Homo sapiens: one gene and its partners. The gene in region 2 interacts genetically with the main gene of each other region. Each region holds a gene or a part of one and is shown on either strand. Other genes may lie near its edges.

The links.
Region 1: changes in MBTPS2 (region 2) and NUBP1 together harm fitness less than expected from each alone (positive genetic interaction), as found in Homo sapiens cells (one large-scale study listed by BioGRID).
Region 3: changes in MBTPS2 (region 2) and CYB5B together harm fitness more than expected from each alone (negative genetic interaction), as found in Homo sapiens cells (one large-scale study listed by BioGRID).
Region 4: changes in MBTPS2 (region 2) and EMC1 together harm fitness more than expected from each alone (negative genetic interaction), as found in Homo sapiens cells (one large-scale study listed by BioGRID).
Region 5: changes in MBTPS2 (region 2) and CMAS together harm fitness more than expected from each alone (negative genetic interaction), as found in Homo sapiens cells (one large-scale study listed by BioGRID).
Region 6: changes in MBTPS2 (region 2) and BOD1L1 together harm fitness more than expected from each alone (negative genetic interaction), as found in Homo sapiens cells (one large-scale study listed by BioGRID).
Region 7: changes in MBTPS2 (region 2) and CIT together harm fitness more than expected from each alone (negative genetic interaction), as found in Homo sapiens cells (one large-scale study listed by BioGRID).

Annotation. Positions count from the first base shown.
Region 1 is NC_000016.10:10,742,486-10,746,641, forward strand, and holds the start of NUBP1 (cytosolic Fe-S cluster assembly factor NUBP1), read left to right. Parts: upstream 1-1,356; 5' UTR 1,357-1,378; coding exon 1,379-1,397; intron 1,398-1,475; coding exon 1,476-1,580; intron 1,581-4,156. UniProt on the Homo sapiens protein: Component of the cytosolic iron-sulfur (Fe/S) protein assembly (CIA) machinery. Required for maturation of extramitochondrial Fe-S proteins.
Region 2 is NC_000023.11:21,867,117-21,870,616, forward strand, and holds part of MBTPS2 (membrane-bound transcription factor site-2 protease), read left to right. Parts: intron 1-1,350; coding exon 1,351-1,469; intron 1,470-2,381; coding exon 2,382-2,562; intron 2,563-3,500. UniProt on the Homo sapiens protein: Zinc metalloprotease that mediates intramembrane proteolysis of proteins such as ATF6, ATF6B, SREBF1/SREBP1 and SREBF2/SREBP2.
Region 3 is NC_000016.10:69,441,619-69,445,118, reverse strand, and holds part of CYB5B (cytochrome b5 type B), read right to left. Parts: intron 1-3,500. UniProt on the Homo sapiens protein: Cytochrome b5 is a membrane-bound hemoprotein functioning as an electron carrier for several membrane-bound oxygenases.
Region 4 is NC_000001.11:19,238,025-19,241,524, forward strand, and holds part of EMC1 (ER membrane protein complex subunit 1 isoform 1 precursor), read right to left. Parts: intron 3,119-3,500; coding exon 2,992-3,118; intron 2,681-2,991; exon of another isoform or gene 2,423-2,680; coding exon 2,273-2,422; exon of another isoform or gene 2,233-2,272; intron 1,962-2,232; coding exon 1,794-1,961; intron 1,279-1,793; coding exon 1,207-1,278; intron 834-1,206; coding exon 771-833; intron 116-770; coding exon 1-115. UniProt on the Homo sapiens protein: Part of the endoplasmic reticulum membrane protein complex (EMC) that enables the energy-independent insertion into endoplasmic reticulum membranes of newly synthesized membrane proteins.
Region 5 is NC_000012.12:22,056,218-22,059,717, reverse strand, and holds part of CMAS (N-acylneuraminate cytidylyltransferase), read right to left. Parts: intron 1,152-3,500; coding exon 1,018-1,151; intron 1-1,017. UniProt on the Homo sapiens protein: Catalyzes the activation of N-acetylneuraminic acid (NeuNAc) to cytidine 5'-monophosphate N-acetylneuraminic acid (CMP-NeuNAc), a substrate required for the addition of sialic acid.
Region 6 is NC_000004.12:13,600,226-13,603,725, forward strand, and holds part of BOD1L1 (biorientation of chromosomes in cell division protein 1-like 1), read right to left. Parts: coding exon 1-3,500. UniProt on the Homo sapiens protein: Component of the fork protection machinery required to protect stalled/damaged replication forks from uncontrolled DNA2-dependent resection.
Region 7 is NC_000012.12:119,716,821-119,720,320, forward strand, and holds part of CIT (citron Rho-interacting kinase), read right to left. Parts: intron 2,042-3,500; coding exon 1,879-2,041; intron 1,590-1,878; coding exon 1,425-1,589; intron 1-1,424. UniProt on the Homo sapiens protein: Plays a role in cytokinesis. Required for KIF14 localization to the central spindle and midbody. Putative RHO/RAC effector that binds to the GTP-bound forms of RHO and RAC1. It probably binds p21 with a tighter specificity in vivo.

The DNA of each region.
Region 1 (4,156 bases), on a different chromosome or scaffold from region 2:
AATACAAAAAATTAGCCGGGCGTGGTGGCCTGTAGTCTCAGCTACTCGGGTGGCTGAGGCAGGAGAATGACGTGAACCCAGAAGGCGGAGCTTGCAGTGAGCCGAGATCCCACCACTGCACTCCAGCCTGGGTGACAGAGCGAGAATCCGCCTCAAAAATAAATAAATAAATAAACGTTTCCATATTCTTAGTGTCTGGGGCTAGGTAAAGTTTGTTCACTCATTAATATTCCAGGTGCCAAACCTGTGAGCAATGACACTCCAGTAGCAATGAGCATTTGTGGCATCCACATCTTGGTTTCTGAACTGTTGTCTGCTAAAAAGTAACCAAGGCTCCCTGAAGAAATGACTGCAGCAGGGAGAAGGGATGACTGAAACATCTTGTATCAGAAAGCAAGAAAATGCTCAAAGAAGCTGGATTAGTGCCCAAAGAACATAAGAACTGTCTTGAAGGGGCTTCACTGGCCACATCTGGGGGAAAAAAAATCGACCAGAAAGAATAATAATTGATTATAAAAGACAATTTTAAAAAATCCAGGAATCCATAGTGAGTCTTCGAAAAAAAAGAAAAAAAGAGAGGGTATAAAACTGATATATATTTATCATATATATAATCTATAGTTTTATATATATATATATAAATGCTGCTAAAATCACTGAGTGAAAGGCTGATAGAGAAGAAGATGGTCCCAGAGAGTACCTGTTAATTACAAATGGAAGAAGGAAACATTAAATGGAGAAATGGGGCAGACACCACCTTTAGCAAGCGATCAAGCTTCACATTACCAAAAACGGGACAAACTGACATTATCCAAGTGTGTTCTGCAGGAAAAAAGAAAAATTAACCTTTATCTAATTACAAGGCAAGAGGGAGGGGAGGATTAGACAAATCAAGAATATGGGATATTCTATTACACAACTGGTCTGGACCCGTCAAAATTATCAAGGTGATGAGACCCCCCCTAAAAAAAGAAGGACTGATCTGAATTAAAGGAGACCGAAGAGAAATAACTCCAGGCAGTGAGTGAATCCAGCAGGGGAGGGGGTCTAACAACTGAAATTGAAATATAAACTGTCTATTGGCTAATACTGCATTGGCTAGTACTGCATCGATATTAAATCTCTTGGGTATGAAAATGGCACTGATGTCATGAAGAATGGCTTTGTTCTTAGGAGATGCACTGCAGAAGTATTTATGATAGGAAATCTCTGAAAAGGAACAGACGTTGAGTCCCAGTCTTTCGGCCCAAGGTTCGCGCGTGCGCACAGCCCCCTTTCCGAGACTTATTTCGCGCGGTCGGAGAATCAGATTGTGCCCACAAGGCGGAAATGTACGACAGCGGGTTCCGGTGACCACGAAGGCGGCAAAGGCGACGGAATGGAGGAGGTGCCTCACGGTAAGCTCGCGGAGGGGGCGTGGGTCGCGGGGCGAAAGTGTCGGGAGCTGCTCTAACTGTGGTCTTGTCTCTGCGCAGACTGTCCAGGGGCCGACAGCGCCCAGGCGGGCAGAGGGGCTTCATGTCAGGGATGCCCCAACCAGCGGCTGTGCGCTTCTGGAGCGGGGGCCACTCCGGACACGGGTGAGAAAAGGGCAAGGCCTCAACAGGAACTTAGAGGCGCAGGCCCGGAAAAGGCGGGGCGTGGGAGGGAGGGGGCGGGATCTGCAGAATGACTGACAGCGGCAGGCTAGAAGGTATTGTATTCGGAGAGGGGTGGGGCCCAGAAGGGGCGGGGCGTGGAAAGTGGGCAGGGTGAGGGCGGAGCTTGGAATGACTGACAGGAACGAGGCCTTTAGAAGGCGAGCGCGAAGGACCTGGCGCGGATGGAGGGTGGAGACTGACCGGCGCGGAGTCGAAAGGGACATTAATTAAGAGGGTCGGGGCCAGAGGTTTGAGTGACAATAACAGACCGCAGAGAAAAACGGGATAAGCTTCGAAGTCGGGGAGTCTTCGGACTTACATCCTGGCTCTGCCAGCTACTTTCTTGACACAATTTTCTTCCTTTTGAGGAGTGATTCTCCCACTCATTCAGCAGAAATGTGTTGATCGCCTCGTAGGTTTGGTGCTGTCCTGGGGACACAGCTGGGGATCAGGCGTGGTCACTGCTCTAGTGGAGTTTAGCTTTACTGGGGAAACAAACACGTGAGCTAGCAACTAAACCACCGCAGCTTTAAGTGCTGTGAAGCACAGATTCCAGGATGAGAGGACCCAGGGAGCCTGCTCAGAAGGACCTTAAAAAGCAGGAGGCAGGAGGACAATATTTTTTTTTCTTTTTTTTCCCCCTTTTTTTTTAGACAGAGTCTTGCTGTGTAGCCCAGACCAGAGTGCAGTGGTGTGATCTCGGCTCACTGCAACTTTCACCTCTCAGGTTCAAGCGATTCTCGTGCCTCAGTCTCCCGAGTACCTGGGACTACAGGCGCCTGCCACCACGGCTGGCTAATTTTTATATTTTTAGTAGAACCAGAGTTTCACCATGTTGACCAGGTTGGTCTCGAACTCCTGACCTCAAGTGATGCATCTGCCTGGGCCTCCCAAAGTGCTGGGATTACAGGCATGAGCCACTGCACCTGGCCAAGGGGGAGAATCTTGAAGGAGTTCAGAGAGAGACTTGGATTTGATTCTTGGATCCATGCGGTGTGACCTTCAGCAATAGTCCTAACCTCTCTGAGCTTCTGGTTCCTCATCAAAAATGGAGACAGGCCGGGTGCAGTGGCTCACGCCTGTAATCCCAGCACTTTGGGAGGCCGAGGCGGGTGGATGGATCACTTGAGGTCAGGAGTTCGAGACCAGCCTGGCCAACATGGTGAAACCTGTCTCTACTAAAAATACAAAAATTAGCCAGCATGGTGGTGCATGCCCGCCCTCGAGGCTGAGGTGGGAGGATCACTTGAACCCGGGAGGTGGAGGTTGCAGTGAGCTGAGATCGTGCCACTGCACTCCAGCCTGGGTGACAGAGTGAGACCCTGTCTCAAAGAAAAAAAAAAATGAAGAGAAAAATAGTTATCTCTGTCAATGCAATGGAGAGACTGAACTGAGCCTCAGTGGAGGTTTATTGGGCCAGAGCTTGAGGGCGTGCCCTGGAAAATACAAGTGACAGAAACATCTGTGGCCTGTGCTCGATGGAGTGGTTCCAGAAGGCTGGTGTTTATATATTTCATTAAAAGGGGAAAAAGCATGCAGGAAAAAGTGCAGTAGGCCTCGTGGCAGGTAGTTACATTCTTGTGAGGTTTTAATTCGTGCCCAGTATATCTACACTATTCAGAAAATAAAGTAAACATTCAAAAGAGGGAATAAAGGAAGAATTAATTAGGCAGACGTCTCAGGGTAGGAGAGGAAGGACTATCTCATCCCATCTTTGTTTGGCATGTGGGAGGATAAGCTTGTAATGGACATGGTCAGTGTGGCGTTTAACAGACATCAGTAATAGGGAAGGAGTTAGACTGAGGTTACAGTCCTAAAGTTACAGTTGGCATGTCCTTGTTTATGGGAGGATACTCATCTTCAAAGATTTAGGGGCCAGCAAAGGAGTTCCTTAGGAGCAACTTGTGAGGGCAGTCATCCCACAATGGATTGCATGGGGCCTTTGGCCTTTTGCAGGTGTCTGGTTAATGTAGAATGCTTTGACACAAGGTTGGGAAGTAACAGCTGTCTGTTGATGGGGAGGAGGACAGCAGTGTTGGGAGGTTTCCAGGCTTAACTTTCACTTGAGTTTGGCCAGTCATGAGACTTTTTAATTTCCTTTATACCTCGTGTATTGTTTTAAGGATTTGAAATAAGATAGTTTCATTGGCAGATACTTAGTATGTGCCTGCTGTCTATCAGAGTTTCTCAACCTCAGCACTGCTGACATTTGGGGCAGGATCACTCTTTGTTGTGGGGGGCTGTCCTGTGCATTGTAGGACATTTAGCACAATCTGGGCTGTACCCATTAAATGCCAGCAGTACCTCTCCTGTGACAATGAAAAGTGTCTCCAGGCTGAGCATGGTGGCTCACACCTGTAATTCCAACACTTTGGGAGGCCAAGGTGGGTGGATCACTTGAGGTTGGAAGTTCGAGACTAGCCTGGCCAACATAGAGAAACACCGTCTCTATTAAAAATACAAAAATTAGCCAGGCATGGTGGCAGGCACCTGTAATCCCAGCTACTTGGGAGGCT
Region 2 (3,500 bases):
AATAACCAAAATAAACAAATTGAAAGTATTTATTTACTAAATACTGAAATATTACTACCAGCAACAGCTTTATTGTCACTGGAATAGTGGAAAAGAATGGAAATTCCAGAAGCAAGCCAAAGAATAGATGAAAATGTATTGTAAATTAAAAGTTGCATTTAATTTAGTAGGGAAAGAATGCACTGCTCAGTAATTATTAGCTAAACATTTGAATAAAATTAGTTATATGTATCAGTCACACCATACACAAAAATAAATTCCAAATGGTAAAAGATTTAAATGTAAAAATCACACACATACACAAAAATAAATTCCAAATGGTAAGAGATTTAAATGTAAAAATAAAACTATTTAAACCATCCTTCTCCACAAAAAGAGTGATTACTTACATAATGTTAGGGGCGAGAAAGTCTTCCTTTGCACAGCTGCAAAGGTTGAATATATAATGGAAAAGATTAATGAATTTGAGTACCTAAATTTTAGGGTTTAAAAAAAAATAATAAAGACGGTTTTCTCTTTTTTTTTTTTTTTTTGAGACGGAGTCCTGCTCTGTGCTATGTCACCCAGGCTGGAGCGCAGTGGCACGATCTCAGCTCACTGTAGTCTCCGCTTCCCGGGTTCAAGCAATTCTCCAGCCTCAGCCTCACAAGCAACTGGGACTACAGACGCGCGCCACCATGCCTGGCTAATTTTTTTGTATTTTTAGTAGAGACAGGGTTTCACCATGTTGGCCAAGCTGGTGTTGATCTCCTGACCTCGTGATCCGCCCGCCCTGGCCTCCCAAAGTGCTGGGATTACAGGCGTGAGCCACCGTGCCTGGCCGACAGTTTTCTTATGGTTTGTTGCTTTATAGTCTGTGACGTGATGTAAAATATATGCTCGGTTTGTTCCACCAATATTGTTCTGCATAATAGTTTAGTTCTTAAAACAACCTCCTTTTTCCAAGTACCATTTGAGTTTCTGTACCCCTGTTTAGCAAGAGTTTTTTTTATTTGAATGTATATGAGGTTTCTTTCAAAGATCACAAATATGTTTAAATTAGTGATATATACATTTTCTGAAAAGAGAGTATAATTAGTGGAAGATATTAGTTCTATCAGTATCAAATCATGTTAGCATGTGGTCTTCCTAGTGTGGTATTAACATGCCCATTTTAGATTTCAATATCTAAAATGAAAGTAACTAATAATTGAACATCTGTCTGCTCTACTAATAAGTAGATATTTTTGCCTCATTGCTTCTTCTGATCACTTTATTAATTTATCAGAATGCCCAAGTGTTGTGAGGTCCAGCTACTTATATCATTCCTGCCCCCGGTTGAGCTTATTGCTTTTTTTCCTCTCTTTCCAGGTATCTGGCATAATTTTGTCCTTGCACTCTTGGGTATTTTAGCTCTTGTTCTCCTCCCAGTAATTCTCTTGCCATTTTACTACACTGGAGTTGGGGTGCTCATCACTGAAGTTGCTGAGGTAAATAATGGATTACTCAGGGCATTCTTTCATCAGATGTTGTGATGTAATACCTAGCATCTATTCAGAAACTTTTATTCAAGATCTCTTCATATACAAAATGCTTAGTTTCTTCTGAAGAAATTACTGTAGTCCTCTCAAATCTAACAAATAATGTTGGGAAACACATTGGTTTTTTTAAAGTTTCATGAAAATTGTTTTTGTCCTGATGCTGTACTTAGGAAGATAGTATCAAGATTTTCTACCTGTAGTTTATTGGTAAAATGCATCATTTACCTTTTCTGTTTATTTTTATATCTCTGCTTTTGAGTCAAATGTCTTTACGCCTCCTAAGTAGTAAGAAAGATGAAACCTAGGCTGTCCAGCCGTAACATTTCATAGGAGTTTAAGTTAATGTCTTCAACTCTGTATTTCACTCCCTTAGACAATAACTGCTATGATGGCATCAAATCTTGTATTCAGACATTAGAAAGAGGAAAATTACCTTTGTGAGCAATTGGCTTACATATACATTGTACTGATGGTATTGCCTGCATATTGGGGATATGAAAGGATGTGTCTTATTGTTTTATGCGTTAAGGATATAGGAAAGGCAAGACAGTCTGATGATACTTTCACCAAAAAATTTTTAATTGGCAGTTTGGGAAAAAATTTTATCATTTTAGTCTTAACAGTCAGCAAGTCGGCTTTTTTTCAATTGTGAAAAATTCAAAATCTTGGAGAATTTGGGAAAAGCAACTATAATTGTTGGGTTTTATTTTAATTTTCTAGGACTATGTCTTGAATTCAAAGCTGGATTATTTTCTGCATTCAAACTATTCACTTAATTAACTCAGTGTCTTTATTATTTGCTCAGATTAATTATAGCTTGTCTTCATGCATTATCTGATTTGGTTTTACCCTCTTCCCAAGGACTCTCCTGCCATTGGACCCAGAGGCCTTTTTGTGGGAGACCTTGTCACCCATCTACAGGATTGTCCTGTTACTAATGTGCAAGATTGGAATGAATGTTTAGATACCATCGCCTATGAGCCCCAAATTGGTTACTGTATAAGTGCATCAACTTTACAGCAGTTAAGTTTCCCAGTTAGAGGTGTGTATATTTCCTCAATATAATATAATGCTTCAAGCACCAGTACCTGCCATTCACTAATCCTTAAACCATGTCTATACATTTATTCTGTTCTAATCTGTTTAAAGCAAATCAGTAAAGTAAATAGATTCCAACCAATAGACATTTTTCTTGGTAAGTTGGATGCTAATATGTGTTTCCTTTATTATATATTGTTGAACTTCTAACTATTTTCATTATATCATATTTAACTTTTAGGACTCTAATATTTTCTGCTTTCAAAACACTTGTATTAAATCATAGCCGGGCGCAGTGGCTCACGCCTGTAATCCCAGCACTTTGGGAGGCTGAGGCGGGCGGATCACTTGAGGTCAGGAGTTCATGACCAACCTGGCCAACATAGTGAAACCCCATCTCTACTAAAAATACAAAAATTAGCAGGGCATGGTGACGGGTGCCTGTGATTTCAGCTGCTCGGGAGTCTGAGGCAGGAGAATCGCTTGAACCCGGGAGGTGGAGGTTGCAATGAGCCGAGATCGGGACATGGAAAGAGACTCTGTCTCAAAAAAAAAAAAAAAAATCAGCATTCAAGGTCAATCATAACCAATTAACTAATTCCAATAATCAAATACCCCAATATAATATTATCTTTATGCATGTCTGTAGATATATTATAGTACTTTAAACTTTTATAATTGAAAAAGGGAATATAAGTAATAAGAACCGGTTCTACTTTGCATAAGCTTATGTCAGAACAGATAAACAACGATAGTTAACAACTAAATATATAAAAATCAAAGCATAAACATTCTGTATTAATATATTGTTAGCCCAACACAGACATGCAATAAGGAAAGATTACAAGAAATAAGAAGGAACTTGGCAAACAAAAAACCCCATCTGGGATTTAGAAAAAATTCCCTTACTTCTTAAAAATTCCCTTAATACTTAAACAGTTC
Region 3 (3,500 bases), on a different chromosome or scaffold from region 2:
AACCCAACTATTGTGTTGCCTTTCAGAGTAAAAGGACAATAAAACTCCTTCATAGATTACAACATTTCAGGGAATGACTGAATTTTTGACTTGCTACACAGTTCTTTCTACAAGTACTTTCACTTTCATCAGTCTCTCACCACTTATAAACAAGAGAAAGCACAACACTTTTTTAAAATATTAAGTAAAAGTTATATATTCGCTGTGGTAAATTTGGAAAAAAGAATAATCAACTAGAGTCCTGGAACAGAAATAAGTCCAGTTAACAATTTGGTGCATAAAACTTCATTTTTCCTGTGTATTCTTTCAATCATTTCAGCCATTAGTCTACAATTTTTTATTGAATCCTTACTATTTTGTGTGGTAGGCAGTGATAAATAAAAGTTTTTTGTGTTCTCACAAAGTGAATTCATGTAGTACATAATGTTTTGTAGCCTGCTTCTTTTTTTTTTTCACTGAAGCAAGTGGGGGTCAGAGTGATCAAACAAAATTCTACGGTTTAATAACTTTCACTCTAAAATATGGTCTTAATAGAGATGGCTTAGAACAAGCAAAAAGACGTCAGGGAGCTTTTGGTTTCTGTTTAGAACTCTATAGTCTCCAGATAGAGTTAGCGAAAATCAAATGGATGCAGGGCTGCCATGGGCCACTGGCAGCCCAGCTGGAGGAGTTGGAATCACTGCACTAGGCCCGAGGCTATAGCAGGGTCCTGGCCAGTCTTAGGCCAAGATAATGCCCAGGCTGAGGAGCATACGAAGGCCTCGACGAAAACCCAAAGAGCCCCGGCACCCCAGGAGAAGCCAGACCAGCTCTCAGTGAAGACAGAGGGTAGGAGCTACTGTCCAACTCCAGCGTCAGCCACTGGATGGTCCCGCCCATGTTTATCATCTGCTTCTTCTCAGATATGATCTGCCACTACATGTTCATCCTGGTACAGAGCGACAAGAAGCTCACCCAGGAGCAAGTATCTGACAGTTAAGTCCTAATTTGAAGCAGAGCCTTCAGTGAAAATGGAAATTACATTCCCAAAAAGTCTTTTTCTTGACATGAGAATATTACATCAACAACCCAGAGGATAAAAATATCACCACTTCCTCCCACTATGCTCTCAGGCATGATGAAAGGAAATATAACAAACGTCATCCCTATGATTCTTACTTGTGAATGGATCAACATTGACATACTCAGGCATTGTTGCAACCAAGGTCCTATTTCCACTGACCCTCTGTTTTTTGTTGTTGTTGTTTGTTTGTTTGTTTGTTTTGAGACGGAGTCTCACTCTGTTGCCCAGGCTGGAATGCAGTAGCACAATCTCGGCTCACTGCAACCTCTGCCTCCCAAGTTCAAGCGATTCTCCTGCCTCAGCCTCCCAGGTAGCTGGGACTACAGGTGCCTGCCACCATGCCCAGCTAATTTTTGTGTTTTTAGTAGAGACAAGGTTTCACCACGTTGGCCAGGCTGGTCTCGAACTCCTGACCTCAGGTGATTCACCCGCCTCGGCCTCCTAAAGTGCTGGGATTACAGGCATGAGCCACTGCACCCGGCCGACCCTCTGGTTTTAAGCCTATGCTGCAGCAAGTTATCAAACTACTCACATTAGATCCACCCTGAATGAGCTCTGCATCCTGGTATTTCCTCAACGTATTTGGGCTTCAGAGAATTTACTGTGATTCTAGGCCAAGATAATGGCAACTGACCAATAAGAAATGAGGCAGGAGCAGATGACCAGAGCAGCCATGGCCATGCCCACAGAAACCAGCAAAGCTTCCAAGACAAAGTAGAAAGTTCTGGAGCTGATGGGTCACCAGTGGACACCAGATGATGTCAAAGAGCTCATGGGCAAAGGCCTTCACTTTGAAGTTATGTTCAAAAAGGAGTTACAAGACCAAGTGCCATGGCTCACGCCTGTAATCCCAACACTTTGGGAGGCTGAAGAGGGCGGATCACTTGAGGCCAGGAGTTTGAGACCAGCCTGGCCAACGTGGTGAAACCCTGTCTCTACTAAAAGTACAAAAATTAGCTGGGTATGCTGGCGCTCACCTGTAATCCCAACTATTCGGGAAAACCACTTGAACCCGGGAGGCGAAGTTTTCAGTGAGCCACAATCGCACCACTGCACTCCAGCCTGGGCAATACAGTGAAGCTCTGTCACAAAAAAAATTTTTAAAAAAGCCTCTATTTTTTGAAGACCAAGTAGTAAAAATTAGCTCTGCCAGAACTTGGAGTAGTCCTTAACCTGCTAACTTGTGTTTGAGCTAGAGACTCTCAGAATTTAAAAAAAAAAAAAAAAAAAGGATAGCTAGGCACAGTGGCTCACACCTGTATTCCCAACACTTTGGGAGGCCAAGGCAGGAAGATTGCTTGAGGCCAGGAATTCAAGACCAACCTGGGCAACCAAGCAAGACCTTGTTCTCCACAAAAAAAATTTTAAAAATTAAAAAATTATCCAGGCATGGTGGCCTGTAGTCCTGGCTACTCAGGAAGCTGAATTAGGAGGATCATCCAGAAGCCAAGGAATTCGAGGCATGGCGCCACTGCACTGCAGCCTGGGCAACGGAGACCCTGTCACTAAAAAAATTAAAAATACATAAATATTAAAAAGTAAAAAATAATAATTTAAAAAGAAAGATATATGAGCCGCTGAGCATGCAGCAAGGATCATTCTTATCTGAGCCAGGTTTCCCTTTATGCCTGAAACTAGAAAAAATGCAGTGTGTGTGCTGGATGATTTACAGGGAAAGAGCCATTTAAAAAATGTTTTACATTTTCCTTCTGGTGACTCTAGAAATGAGAGGCAGAGAAAGGGGAAAACTTAAGCTAGCCAAAATATAAACATTTACCAAAAATTCAATCTTTGAAAAAGCATTATTATTTTCTGAAAGATTTCATGTAAACAAAGAAAGAAAAAGCATTATTAATTATAACTAATTATTATATGCAGTCTGACTTTTAATCACAGTAAGCTCCTATTTTGAGATCCAAGCACCCTGCATTTTTATATTTAATTGTTAGTATTTTTATAACTTTCTTTACAAAAGTAATAATTTTCATTACCAAAAATTTAGAAACTATAGATAAGCAAAATGAATCTCCCTGTATTGTTCATTCTGAGCCTACAGGATGACATGAAGAGCAAATACGTGAAAACTTCATTCACACAAACTCTTTTCAGACAGATTATCCAGGGCCAGGAAAAGTAGCAAACCTTCTATATATTTTAATACTATCCAGGGAAAATTAGTGACCCTGACATACTGCCAGATCTATTTCCCATCTAGGGAACTTTCAGGATCATCAAAGACAGGTTAAGTAATGGGAAGTTCTTGATCTAGAGTTGAGAATATTATCAAACCCACTGAAAAAAAATGAGTTTCTATACTGTATATGTCCAGTCAGTTGAACTAAAAACCCCAGATATTCTAGATAAGAGTTTACATAACTTTTTAAGAAGGCAGAGAGATCAACTGCTGGCAGACATCTAGGTGAGGGTTGCACAGGAA
Region 4 (3,500 bases), on a different chromosome or scaffold from region 2:
GCCGAGTGCCGCTCTGTTCCAGGCTAAATGTTATCGTGGTGTCCAGCAGCCGCCGACCTGTCTCCACGAGGTATAGGTTAATGGTGTAGGTCTGATTGAAGCAAGCCAGAGAGTCCTAGGAGTACAGACAGCACGTGTCAACTACAGGTATCCCCCGAAAGCAAAGCCCACCAAAGGAAGTCCAAGGATTGGGGGCAAATACCCTAGAGAAGGAGCCAGGCCAGAAGGGGAAATATATGCAAAGGAGAATAAAAGAGAAAAGCAAGCTAAATCCTAAGGCAGAAATAAGGTGCCTGAGTAAATAAATGAAATTACAACTACCATACTTGTCTTGGAAGCCAGTACAGAGTAGCAGAGACTTCTGAGAGAGAGGTAGGGCTGAGCAAGGTAAGACTGAGCAAGACAGGAGGCAGGGAAACGCTTAGATGGAAGCCACAGCAGGAACCTATGCCTCCAGCCAGGGGCTCATGCCTCTGCTACAGGGTAACTGCACAGAGTACTACTCAACTGTGCCAGCCAGGATCCCAAAAGAAATGGGGACGCTGAGGCCCAGAGGAGAAAGTGGCTAGAAACAGACTCTAGGGATTCTACCTCCTAATCTCCCGGTAAAATGAGATTAAGAGAAACATCATTTAATTTACAGTACTTAGGAAACCTCATTTGAAGCTGGGAACTCTAGGACCTGCTCCTAACCAAAGCTCTTCCCCCAACTCTCTTTGGTGGCCTCCTGCGTCTCTAGGTCTGGCATACTGCCCAGTGCCACACCATACCTTTGAACTAGACTTCTCCGAAAAGCTCCCCATTGACCCATCTTCAGAACTGCTACTTTTCTGCTATGAGAAAGAGAAGGACAGGAGAAAATTCAGCCAAAGGGTCACTTCCCAGTCACTGAAATGAAGCTTTTGTTTTTGTCTTCTTAGCACTTGAGAGAAGACAAAGCTCATTTCTCACCCCTGCCCACAAAGCCTATTCAACCCTTAATAGCCCCATATGAAAGTAAGGTCATCACATTAGGGTCTCGTTCCTGGGGAGAAATGGGGTGTGCAGAAAGCTCTATAGTTGAGGCAAGACCTCACTTCTCAACAGCCTCCTGCCCGCTGGGTTCAAACTGACCAGGTCAATGTGCCCAGACTTCTGATTTTCAGGGTTCCTAGTGGAGACCAGGAAGGAAAATCCCAAGTGCTGACTGTTGTTCTCAATACTCACCACTTCATTCCGACAGGCCATGACTGCAGCCACCGTCTTCTCCCCAGTGGTGGCAAAGCTCACTAGGGCAGTCTGGGGGAAAAGCAAGGCATCAGCTCCTAAATGGGACCAGTACTAGCCAGCTGCCTTACAGAGGGTCACCTCTCCAGGGAAGGCCCTTGGCCTTAGAGTTGAAAGTGCTCCCCACTTTGGAGCAGAATGGTCAGGCATTTAAGAGCAGAGGGAGGCCTCAGTTGCATCTACAGCTGAAAACAGAACTCTCCCTACCTCCAACGCAGGCACAGGTCAATCTTAAATCCCATGCTGCTTGTTCTTACTATCTATGGGGAAGCTCTCATTTATGTCCCCATATTTCCTTTGGACTAAGGAAGGCACTAGTTTTGCTCTAAAGATCCTTTGTAATACTCAGGAGGAAATACACCATTTCTATGATAAGGCTACCTACCCCCTCTCAAACCACTTACGGGAAGGTGTCATCAATCTTGGGCCTAAGAGCAAACGTTTCCAGATTCAAAAGCACTGCCTTCTAGCATCCATGTCTTGGAGAGATCTCCTGAATCCTAGCAAACCATGTTGCCTGCAGTTACCTGTGGGAAGTTTTTAAGCAAACTCAGCGTTCCATAATGGTACTGCAGCAGAGCATAGTGGCTTGGGGACAAGTGCAGGAAGAACTGGGCCCGGGAAGCGTCCACTGGGTTGGGCTGGGTAGGCAGGACCCGGGGTTGGAATCCACTTCCAAATTCTAAGTCGAGAGACTGGAAGGCAAGAAGGAGGAGGATTATGGCTAACAGCTGACGACTCCCTGACCCATCCCAGGCTCACAACCTCTGCCCTACTTTGCCGGGGGAAGTAACTGGGCCATGGCAGGTGGCTCCAAATGCTCCAGTTCAAGTTCCCCAAAGAGGAAAGTGACTGATTTCCTCTTACACCAGTTCAGCCAGAGGCCTGAATGGCTTCCACTGCTCAGGAAGAGTCTAGGAGAAAGACCCTCCAGGGGAATCATGCCAAACTTTCTACTCCCCGCAGGAAATGCCTCAGGCCAGAAGAAGCAGTGGCAGCCTCTCACCTGCAGTGGGATCTGTCTCAACTCCCATTCCGTCTCCAGAGCCAAAGTTTGGAGGGAACGTGAGCTCGGGTCAGGACACACCAGGACAGCCTCATCCACCACACCACAGGCTCCAGACAGGTGCTGCAGCCACGGAGTTGAAACCCTAACCTACAGAAAAGTCATCGTTAACAGGAAGCTCGTGAAAGATTTTTACATTTCCCTCTCAGCCCAACAGCAATATTGCTGCCAGCATCCCACTGGGGGTCCTAAGCTCAAAGGTTCTTCATGGTTGGTTGTATAGGAGTTCTTCCTGTCCCCTGAAACCCCACCCTCCAACCTCCTGAGAGCCTTCAAAGTTGGAAAAAATATCAGGATTTTCTTTCTGGTCACTGGAAAAATATATCCGATAATTTTAAATACCTGGCACTTCAGAATCAGCACTTCTTTACTATATTTGCCATATGTGGTGTCCTACTGTGATTTCACAGCACTGTAAGATACTTACAGGCAGAGACTAGATCTATGTAATTTTTTAGCCACCCCAGAAGATAACACATGCAAATATGAGTACTTTAAATAGAGGCCTAATGGGAAGGCAGCTGGCAAGTGACCAGAATGAGGGAGCATAAGTAGCTTTTGCATCTGCCCAGCCAAGTTCCCTGTTCCCCAGTACAAAGAAATCTATCAAGTCTCCCCCAACCCCACCTTATTCACAGGCTCCTGTCACCCTCCTGTACCTGCTGAACAATCTCTCCATCTTCCACATTAAACTTGACAATGTTCACATGGCTGAAGGGAACAACTCCGAGGGCCCACACCACCCCAGAGCCGTAAGAATACACCATCTGGTAGTGGATGCTGTCACTAAGAGAGGGAAGAAGAAACCGCAGCGTCAGCTTTCAACCCAGGACAGGATTATCCTCAGGGGCTGCCAGGCCTCAGCCAGATGTCACAAACTAGTAATTCCCAAATAGGTTTTGTTTGGCTCACACAGTTTGGGGGCTTTTGTTGTTGTTGTTCTTAATTTGAATTAGTTGTCAACATTTAGAAGATATTATACTTCACAATCAGATTTCTAAATTTTCCTACGGTTAGAAGATGTGGCAACACTAGGCCTAAATACAGAGCACCAATCAGGTGGGTAAGGCTGCCCCCTCCAGGCAGGCCAGGAGCACTGCAGCTCCCATCCAGCCAGTGTTGCTCATGGATATTTCATAACCCGCCTCATAGCATTTTCTTTGTTGTG
Region 5 (3,500 bases), on a different chromosome or scaffold from region 2:
CAATTTTTCTGAACACTTAAATTTAACTAAACAGCTAGTCTATAGTTTGCCTACACATTGACCAGAAGATTTGTAAAAATGTTTTTCTCTCTTTTGCTCAGAATAATAGTCCCATTAGAATTTTTATTACACAATGGAGAGGTTTCTCTCTCTCTCTTTAAAACCGCTATTTCTTGAGTAACATAAGAACCTGAATCCAAATCCTGACAGTACCATTTATTAGCTGTTTTTGCCTTGAGTCAATTACTTCATATTTCAGTGAGGCAGTTTTCCTCCTCTGTAAAACTGGGTAGAAATGTCCACTTCATTCATTCGCTATGCAGATTACATAAGATAACATATGCAAAGTGTTTCACCTACTCCGAAGTACACAGTAAATAATAAATAATAATGATAACTAAAATTAACAAGTTAAGAAATATATGATGCAACCATGTTGCAGGCTCTAAAATGAGAGAGACATTAAATCTGTTATTTGAAAATGAGAGTCAGGACAGATAAAATGATACATATTCAAGCTTACATAGTAAGAGGCAGTTGACTTAAAGTATAATAAAAAAAAAAAAAAATATATATATATATATATATAAAAAGATTCCGGGTTTCCTGACACCCAGGTTGTAACTCTTTTCACCTCTATGAAATTATTTGTCTTTTTAAAGCAATAGAAGTTATTCAACCCTACAGCCACAATATAACTATAACACAAACATGGATTACGTAGTTTTGAGTGGAATAATATGAGTACCAGGACATGTGTAGACACCCAGTACTTGATTCATTTTTTTATCGTTGTAGCAGAATTCCTTGCATATTTACTGAATGGATTCCAAAGATCACTTTGGGGTAAACCTGCAGGATAAATGCCTCAGATAGCAAATGTTGTTGGCTATTACCTTTCCTCTATAGGTTGATACTTTTCTTTATCATAAAGAAATTGTACCATACTTCTTCCCTAGAACTCAAAGTATGCCTACAAAAGCGCTTAAAAGGGTTATGCAAAATGAAGGTACAAACCTGCAAGTAACCCATCTCTATCAAATGTCTTTTAGCAAAATAAAATGAGCCATTTTCATATAATTCTCCATCCCAGTCTTGTCGACGAGGCCGTTTAGCTGGATTTAAATTCAGAGGTTCGGTCACTTCACGAACTAAAAGCAAAAAGTTAGAGTAAGTCCACGTTGCCCTGAATATAGAAAGTGTTAATTTAGTAACTAAAAAAGTTAATAAAAATGAACTCAGAATGCAGAGCATTTCTTTATCTAGATAAAGAACTTTTCTTTTTTTTTTTTTGAGACAGAGTCTCGCTCTGTCACCCAGGCTGGAGTGCAATGGTGCGATCTTGGCTCACTGCAACCTCCGCCTCCTGGGTTCAAGCGATTCTCCTGCCTCAGCCTCCCAAGTAGCTGGGACTACAGGCATGCACCACCACACCTGGCTAATTTTTGTATTTTTAGTGGAGATGGGGTTTCACCATGTTGTCCGGGCTGGTCTCGAACTCCTGACCTCGTGATCCGCCCACCTCGGCCTCCCAAAGTGCTGGAATTACAGGCATGAGGCACTGCACCCGGCCTGATAAAGAACTTTTTTTAGGCTGAATGTGGTGATTCACGCCTGTAATCCCAGCACTGTGGAGGCCAAGGCGGGCGGATCACTTGAGGTCAGGAGTTCGAGAGCAGCCCAGCCAACATAGTGAAACGCCATCTCCACTAAAAACACAAATTTAGCCGGGCATGGTGGTGGGTACCTGTAATCCCAGCTACTTGGGAGGCTGAGGCAGGAGAATCGCTTGAACCCGGGGGGGGGAGATTGCAGTGAGCCGAGATTGCGCCACTGTACTCCATCCAGCCTGGGCAACAGAGTGAGACTCTGTCTCAAAAAAAAAAAAAAGAACTTTTTTAAAGGAATAAAATCTGTAATAATTCTGATGATTTATCTTTGCTTTCCAATAGCTACTAGAAAACTAAAGTATTTTATAATGAAATGTGGAACAATTAAGGTATTCATACAAATATTATGCTTTGGGAGGACATCAAGACAACCTTAAAGTAGCTTTAAAAGAACTGAATTTGTCATAAAATACCTATATTAATATTTGGGCCCTTTAATCTAGTTCTCATTGTTTGCATATACAGAAATAAGTTTTATTTATCTAATGTGGTTGAGAACTTGTTTTTATACAATTATTGCTGAAAAGTAAAGATTTCTCCATTAAATTATTGAAGATTTTATATTGATGAAAATGTTTATGTAACATATTATACATTCTTACCATTAGTTAAAAATATACTAAACATAATAATAAATTATGTTTATGAGTATACCTGATAATAAAGGCTCAGTAATGTCAACATTAATGAATAGAACATAATGTAATCAATGAAGACTTTGGTACTGTCATGTAGAGATTCCTTTGCCTTTCCACTGAGTTTTCCTCAAATCTGTGTGTGTGTGTGTGTGTGTGTGTGTGTGTGTGTATGTGTGTGTGTGTAATAGCTGGTTACTCTCCAGAATCTTTCTTCACTTTTTGCTGCCATTTCTGTGTTTATACAGGCTTCTAGGAATAACCTCTACTTACTTGTTTAACGAAATCATCCCCTGTTCAATTCCACCCCAGTGTTTGAAATAACCCAGGAAAAAACCTTAGCAAATACAAATTAAATAGCTAGAGATAACATAGCTTTATGGGCACTGGCTACAGAGTAGTGACCAGAACTCTCTCTATTCTCAAAAAGTATACAATCTAGGGGTAGAGACAGGTAATAAACCAACTAGATAATTCAAGTGGTACTTTGAAGAAAAGAGAGGGACAAATCTTTCCTAGTATCGGTGGCTGCTTTCTCCCTGGTCATATCTGCTGAGTATGAGGAGAAGGTACAAGAAAGATCAAGCTTTGCATAATCAGAGGGACTCTGCTGAGGTAGGCAAAAACTAGAAGGGCTTTCAATGACCTTGTGGACTTGAGTTACAGATTGTCATCTGTAGGAACCACAAACATATAGCTCGTTTTTCCCCACCTAATGCTTCCCCCTTACAAGACTTTGGCTGAGTGTACTGGGTGGGAAGCTGGGAATGGGCTGGAAAGCAGGGAGACATCATAATAGTATTGTGGTCATCAGATCCCTTAGTCTTGTTAGCAAGAGTAGGGTATGGGTGTGAGTGTCAGTAACACATACAAGATGTATCTCCTAATAAGACACCTATACTAAGAGGTGAGATGAAATTAAAGTTTCAACCCAGCCCAACTCCTAATTGAATCAAAGTGATCAGCCCCTTATCCTATCTTCCTGATAGAAGAAAAGGTGTACCCTCTCTGGAGGAAAATATGTACTCAAGTGTCTATGCCAGATATACAATTAAACATGAGCCAAATGAAGAGGCAGAAATAGGTGACTCACAATCAAGAAAGAAGCAGATTACAGAACTGTAAGTGACTAGATGTTGAAATTTGCAATCAAGGACTTTCAAATAGCTATCAAAAATATGTTAAATTAGAGGAA
Region 6 (3,500 bases), on a different chromosome or scaffold from region 2:
TCTGCTATGCTAGTGGAAATGAGAGCACATTCATCCTTCTCCTCCTTGCTGGTTGAGGCAAGAGGACTTTCAGCTTCTGGGGGCGCACTGGGCATAGGCCCCTCAAAGTCGGCGGTGCTTATCAAGACTGGACCTGTAGCCCTTTCTTCCACTGCTGCAGCAACCGGCTGAAGACTTTCAGCACACTTGATGGTTGTTGCACTGGAGATAGGCAATTCGAATTCTTCCCCTATGCTTGTGGAAATCATGGCACACTCATCTTTCTCTTCACTTCTGCTGGCAGTGAGTTGGCTGTCATCTCCTGAGACTGCACTGGGCATGGGGGCCTCAAATTCTTCTGTGGTTACTCTGGTACCTTCCATATTTTCTTCAGTTCTCAGAGCATCTGAGAGACCTCCTTCCACATCTGTAATTGCGCTTACCTGAGGGGTGTAATCATTTGTGGTACTGGTGGAAATAATCAAAACTTTGCCTTGATTTTTACCCCCTGCTAAGCTATTCTGGTTGGTAATATCACCACTGGCTGTAGTTGCCATGAGACCATCACACTCTTCATTTTCTACAGAGGTGATGATGTCCTCATCTTCTTTTTCACTTGGTGATGTGTGAGCAACTTCACATTCTGGGACTTCACCAGATACAAGAACATCGTAACTACCCCCGACCAGGCCAGTGGAAATAGTGGTATCTTCAACTTTTTCGAGCTGACTGTCACTTTGATCAGATGCAGCACTAGTCATAGGACCCTCACAACCTCCTGGAACTGGTGTCACTTCATCCTTTCCTGAGACTGCACTGGTCACACTGCTTTCTACAATCCCTTTTGCACTGGAGCAGATATCTGTGTCTTTACTTCCTTTCTCTGTGCCACTCATGCTGTCAACATTATTTTCATTTGCATTCATGATGGCAGCTCCAGCCTCAGCTTCCACATGCTCTACCACAGTACCAATCTGACTGTCCCCTTCTGCACTTTCACAAATCAAGACCCCTTCACTTTCTTCTCCTAACCCTGTACAAGTTGAAGCATGCCCAATTTCATTTCCTCTTCCAGTACTAGTCACAACATCCTCCCCTTCCTCGTCTTCCTCTTTTGCGCCTGTGCTAGTCACAATGCCTTCATCATCACAAGGACCAGCAGCAACTAATGGTACATTAGTGCCTTCTTTGGCCACTGTGCTGTCCATTGCACTCTCTCCATTTTCTTCCGATTCAGAACTTATAGCAAAGCCTTCGCTGCTATCTTCTGAACCTGTGCAACTTGCTGGCCCCTCTCCATCTTCTGTTATCCCCGTGCTGGTGACTGCACTCTCACCTTCTGTACCATCATTCACAGAACCATCTCCTTCTTGGCTGGCACTTGTTCCTGGTGGTGCATCATTATCTCCCAGGACAACACCTGCACCTGTAACCATGCGTTCCTCCCGGGGCCCTGCTCCAGTTACTGAGCAGATCACAAAGTTATCACTTCTGCCTTCTGCTCCTGTACATGTCACAGTGCCCTCTGTTTCTTTTTTGGGACCCATTCTCATCATATTTCCCTGGGAGCCATCCACCTCTTCACTGCTTATAGATCCTGCTCTTATCTCTGTTCCAGCACTTGTAACTGCTCCATCACTTTCAACTTCACTAATAAAAGTAATAGTTCCTTCAACTATTTCTGAGTCTCTACTTAAAGAACCATCACATTTTTCTTCAGAGCCTGCACTGGTTACAGCATCATCCTTTTCCTCTGTCACAACGCTATTTACATTGGCTTCGATTTTAACTGCATGCACAGCCAGTAGGTCTGCTGCTCTGTCCTCAGATTCAGCCACAGCACACTCCCCACTTTCCCCTTCCTTAGTGCTTGTGAGGAAGGTTTCACTTTCAGCAAATCCCTCTGTGACAACAGCCCCACCTTCTTCAGCTGCAGCAAAAACAGTGCATTCACTGGCTTCTGCACCAACATGAAGAGGATTATTTCTGGAATGTGTTCCTATTATGAGGCCTTCATCTGCCTCAATGCTGGTGCAAGGCAAAGCCACCTCACTTTGTCTTGTTTCTGAAGAAGTGGTTGTGGCAGGCCCAGCCTTCACTGGACTTAAGGTGACATCTTTGTCCTTCCCTTCAGTACTAGTGGCAACAGAAGTCTTTTCTGCTCTCCTAGGCCCAGTTGCCACATCCTCAGTTTGTCCGTTCCTTTGGTGTAAAACAGAGGGTGCAGAGCCACTTCCAGCACTGGTGTCTACCTCACTGTTTTCATTCCTTCTTTCAACATCAATTGATATGTCTTTTACTTTACCTGGGCTTCTTTTATGCTTAAGTTTGACAGTTTCAGCATATTTTTCTGTATTCAGGCCTACAACATGATCAACAGCAATGCCATCCTTCTTGCCATTCTCTACTGTTGCTTTAATTGTCTGCTTTAAATTGGGCTCTGCATTTAAGTCATTTTCTTTCTTGGCCATGTCCACTAAGCCACCTTCTTTGGTAATATTCTCATTTTCCACAATCACGCCCGTTAACTTACTTCCAAGAGGCATGATTACCTTTCCTTGTTTACCATCCAATAAAGTAGCCTGGTGAGCTTCTGGAATGTGTCTTTTGCTAGTGATGCTTGCTTTTGCTGGTGTATCTACTGTGAAACCTTCACCACCTTCTTTGCTGTCACTTGTCTTAAGGACTTCTGATTCCCTAACAGTCAGACTTTGGTTAGGGAGAGCAGAGTGATCCGCAGGGGAGGTGCTGGCTGTGCTACCTTCCAAAACAGTTCTTTTGTCAAACAGAGGAATTACATCTGGATCATACGATTCCCTCAGAGGCACAACAGTCACTGAACTTAAGGATGGTGAGGAGTCTAAATTTGTGGAATGTTCAAGAGTGGCATCTCCTTGAGCAACATGTTCTTCAGCAGCTGTGTTTTTCAAATTCTTCTGTACCCTATCATTTTCTGATGGGGCACTCAGTAACATTCTATGAACAGTTTCAGAATCTATATTCACTTCAGTAGTTCCTCTATGAATGGGTTCTTTCTCCCCAGGGTTCATTTTGGACACAGCACTTTGTATATGCATTTTCTTGGTCAAGGTGCTTCTATGATCGGCATGCTTTTCAGAATTACTATTAACTCCTGTTCCACGGCCTGGCTTATAAGCTGGAGCTGTTGCTTTTGAATCTGCTGTGCAAGTTCTCAATTCATCCTTTTGAACAGTGGCAGAAGTTTTTTGTTTCATATTTTCAGAGTCAATGTCTTGCTGAGAATTATTATTGCGGTTGTCTTGGGTTTTAGATACTTCAAACACATTTTCAACACCTGGCTCAGAATCAATTTCCATTGGCTCTTGTTCAGGGATCAATGTCATATCACCACTCTTTTTTGGTCTCTGAAGGGAGGAACCGCTGGGAGTGCTCAAAGTGTTTGCTGCTAATTTTTCTTCTCCTTTGGCCATTTCTTGTGACAAGCTTCCTCTCCGATTTTCGCACAACCTTCTACTTAATTTCTTTTCCATGAGTGAACT
Region 7 (3,500 bases), on a different chromosome or scaffold from region 2:
GGGATTGGAAACAACCTAAATGGCCATCAACAGGAGCCTGGCTTAACAGGTGAATTGCATGCTCACACCACGGAATACTGTGTGGTTCTCTGAAAGAATGGGGTAGGTCCTTATGTACTAATGTGAAACCTCTAAGATAGCACTTTAATGAAACGAAGGTGTCTTGCAGTGTATACTGTAGTGTGCTATGATATTTATAAGAGAAAAAAGGCCTGAAAGATAAGCTTACGTTTTCTTGTTTTTGTTTTTGAGACAGAGTTTCAGTCTTGTTGCCCAGACTGGAATGCAATGGCTTTATCTTGGCTCACTGCAACCTCTGCCTCCCAGGTTCAAACAGTTCTCCTGCCTCAGCCTCCCAGGTAACTGGGATTACAGGCATGCACCACCACACCCGGCTAATTTTGTATTTTTAGTAGAGACAGGGTTTCTCCATGTTGGTCAGGCTAGTCTCGAACTCCCAACCTCAGGTGATCCGCCCACCTCAGCCTCCCAAAGTGCTGGGATTACAGGCGTGAGCCACCACTATAATATTTATAAAAGAAAAAAGGCCTGAGAGAGAGATGTGCTTATTTTTTCATATTCTTTTTTCTTTTCTTTTCTTTTTTTTTTTTTTTTTTTGAGATGGAATCTCACTTTATCACCCAGGCTGGAGTGCAGTGGGGTGATCTCGGCTCACTGCAACCTCCACCTCCTGGGTTCAAATGATTCTACTGCCTTAGCCTCCCAAGTAGCTGGGACTTCAGGAGAATGCTACCACACCCAGCTAATTTTTGTATTTTTAGTAGAAACGAGGTTTCACCATGTTGGCCAGGCTGGTCTCAAACTCCTGACCTCAGGTGATCCGCCTGCCTCAGCATCCCAAAGTGCTGGGATTACTGGCGTGAGCCACCATGCCCAGCCTATTTTCTCATATTCTTTAAATATAATCACACAATGTAAGATACATGAATGGTATAGACATGTGGTCACATATATGAACCAACACTGAGGATGGGGAGCCAGGAGACTGACTTCTTTCTTTTTTTTTTTTTTTTTTTTGAGATGGAGTTTCCCTCTTGTTGCCCAGGCTGGAGTGCAATGGCGCAATCTCGGCTACCGCAACCTCCGCCTCCCGGATTCAAGCAATTCTCCTGCCTCAGCCTCCCGAGTAGCTAGGATTACAGGCATACACTACCATGCCCAGCTAATTTTGCATTTTTAGTAGAGACGGGGTTTCTCCATGTTGGTCAGGCTGGTCTTGAGCTCCCAACTTCAGGTGATCCGCCCACCTCGGCCTCCCAAAGTGCTGGGGTTACAGGTGTGAGCCACCGTGCCTGGCCAAGACTGACTTTTTAATCTTTAACCCCTAGTATTACTTGTAATTTTTACCATATGCCCACATGTCTTAGTCGACTAAAAGAAATTTCCATACAACTCCAACGTACCCTCTGGAGTTGAAGACTCCTTTCTGCGGCTGGATGGCGGGGCCAGCAGGCTCATGGCACTGGGCTGGTGCTCTGGCGACCGCACGATGGCGGACATGGCGATCTGCTGCCTCGCGGTGGCTGGCGTGGATGGGTGTGGGTGGTCCGTTGCTTTGCGGTGGGCAGCTGCAGAGAGACCAGGACAATGCCTTTTGGTTAGCTGGGTCGCCTAGAGGACCAAACTAAGCCGAATGTCCCTGGGCTATCTTTCAAGGACCCAAGACCAAAAGAATATGCGTCACATCAACTTGGCAATGCACAGGGGCCATACGTTTTTCAGACATGGGATGTCTGGTCTGAAAGCGTATGGGCCATAAACGAAGACACTGAGCTAGTTAGTCTTGGCTGATCTCACTGAGATCAATCCTCTGCCTTTTCCACATCCTTGAGCATTTTGGAGAGAGTGAGCCCCTACCTTCCTCCCGGGCGGACCGGAGCTCGATGCGGGTCTTCTGAAGGGCTTCCTCTAGCTCTGCACAGCGAGCTTTCTCCTTCTCCAGGGCCAGCTTCAGCTCATTGTACTGCAGAGGAACCTGTGTGGGTAAAGCAGGGTCCTCTTTCCGTCGACTAAATAAACCCTAGCAATGGAAACAGAGATATCTCCTAACTCCTGGAAACTGGCACTTGAAACTAGCTAAAGGAAATCTGACTCGGGAGGAGCAAACCACAAAAGCCAGGAGCATACTCACTGTAAGTGTATTTAGTAAAAATGGCATGTGAAGGGGGGGAAGGGTAGGCTGAGCCACAGCCCGTTCCAGCCGGCTGAAAAAAATAGGGGTGCGGAAGTTTTCACCAAGAGGATTAAAGATGCTTGAATGGCCACCACCTCTTCCTCTAGCATTGCCAAGACAGGAGAGTCATGTCCTGAGTCTTTCCCATTCAAAAAATGGAATCAGGAGAGTATGGAGTATGGAGTCAGGAGAGATGGTTCAGAGGTCACTCTTGCCTTGGAATATGTCTCATGATGCTCAGTTACAAGACACAGAGATGAGTGTTTTGTAAAAGGAAGCAAAATTTTAAAAGGAATGCTAAAATGAGGTCAAAACAAGGGGCTTACTCAAAAAAAAATGCAAATGAAAATATTTACTATACATGGAAAAAAAAGGAAAACAGAATAATGCAACTTAAAAAAAAGGTAACTAAAAAAAATAACAAATGGAAACACCCTAACTAAATCAAGTGACATAACCAGGTAACAGTTCACTGCTAAAATAAAAAAGATTAAATATCATAAGCATAACAACCATATACAGTCACGCAGCATGCAAGAAAATCCTTCCCGTGCAGCCAACGTCTAGTGGGAGGCGGCCTCTGAATGTTGTGCTCATGCCCTTACAGCGAAGATGGCACCGGAAATATTGAGACAACTGTCAACTTCAGCCCTCCACTCCTTCCTCCTAGGTATTCCAAGTCATCAAGGCCTCTCCTGCAAAACCACTGCCACTGCTGCTATGGTATGCTTCTGCATTTGGAAGGAAACTGCAAGCTTCTTCAAGACTTTTCTGGAACTGAGAACACCTGGCCAAACCTAGTATGAAGGCTTTAGTGGTTTGGGAAAGCATGTATAGATCAGGCTTATGAAAAACAATCTTCTCATGTGCACTATGTATAACCCTGCCCCTAGTTTGTAATTTGTCTCCTGCAATCTAAAAGGGTTGTTCAGTACTTGGCAGAGGGGAGAAGTGTCCAGTCAGACACTTCAGGCAGGTCACCCCAGCTCCCTGAGTTCTAGTCTCTTTGTGAGCCGATCAAAAGGACTGGACTAGATCACTGTTAAAGTCCTTTCTGGAGTGTGGTACGAGAGACCTGAACTGCTGAAGCCCCATACTTGTGACTTGCTAACTCCCTCTAGAGTCATGTATGCATGACTTGGTATAAATCTTTCTCTCTGCATACATCCCTCTGCCCCAACTGCTATGTGTGTGGGCTGGGGAGGGATTACTTCTTTAACAAAGATACTATGATTTGAATGGTCATAAACAAAAAGTAGTTTGTTAGACTTGATCACTGATATCTTTCAGTAAGACCTATTATAAT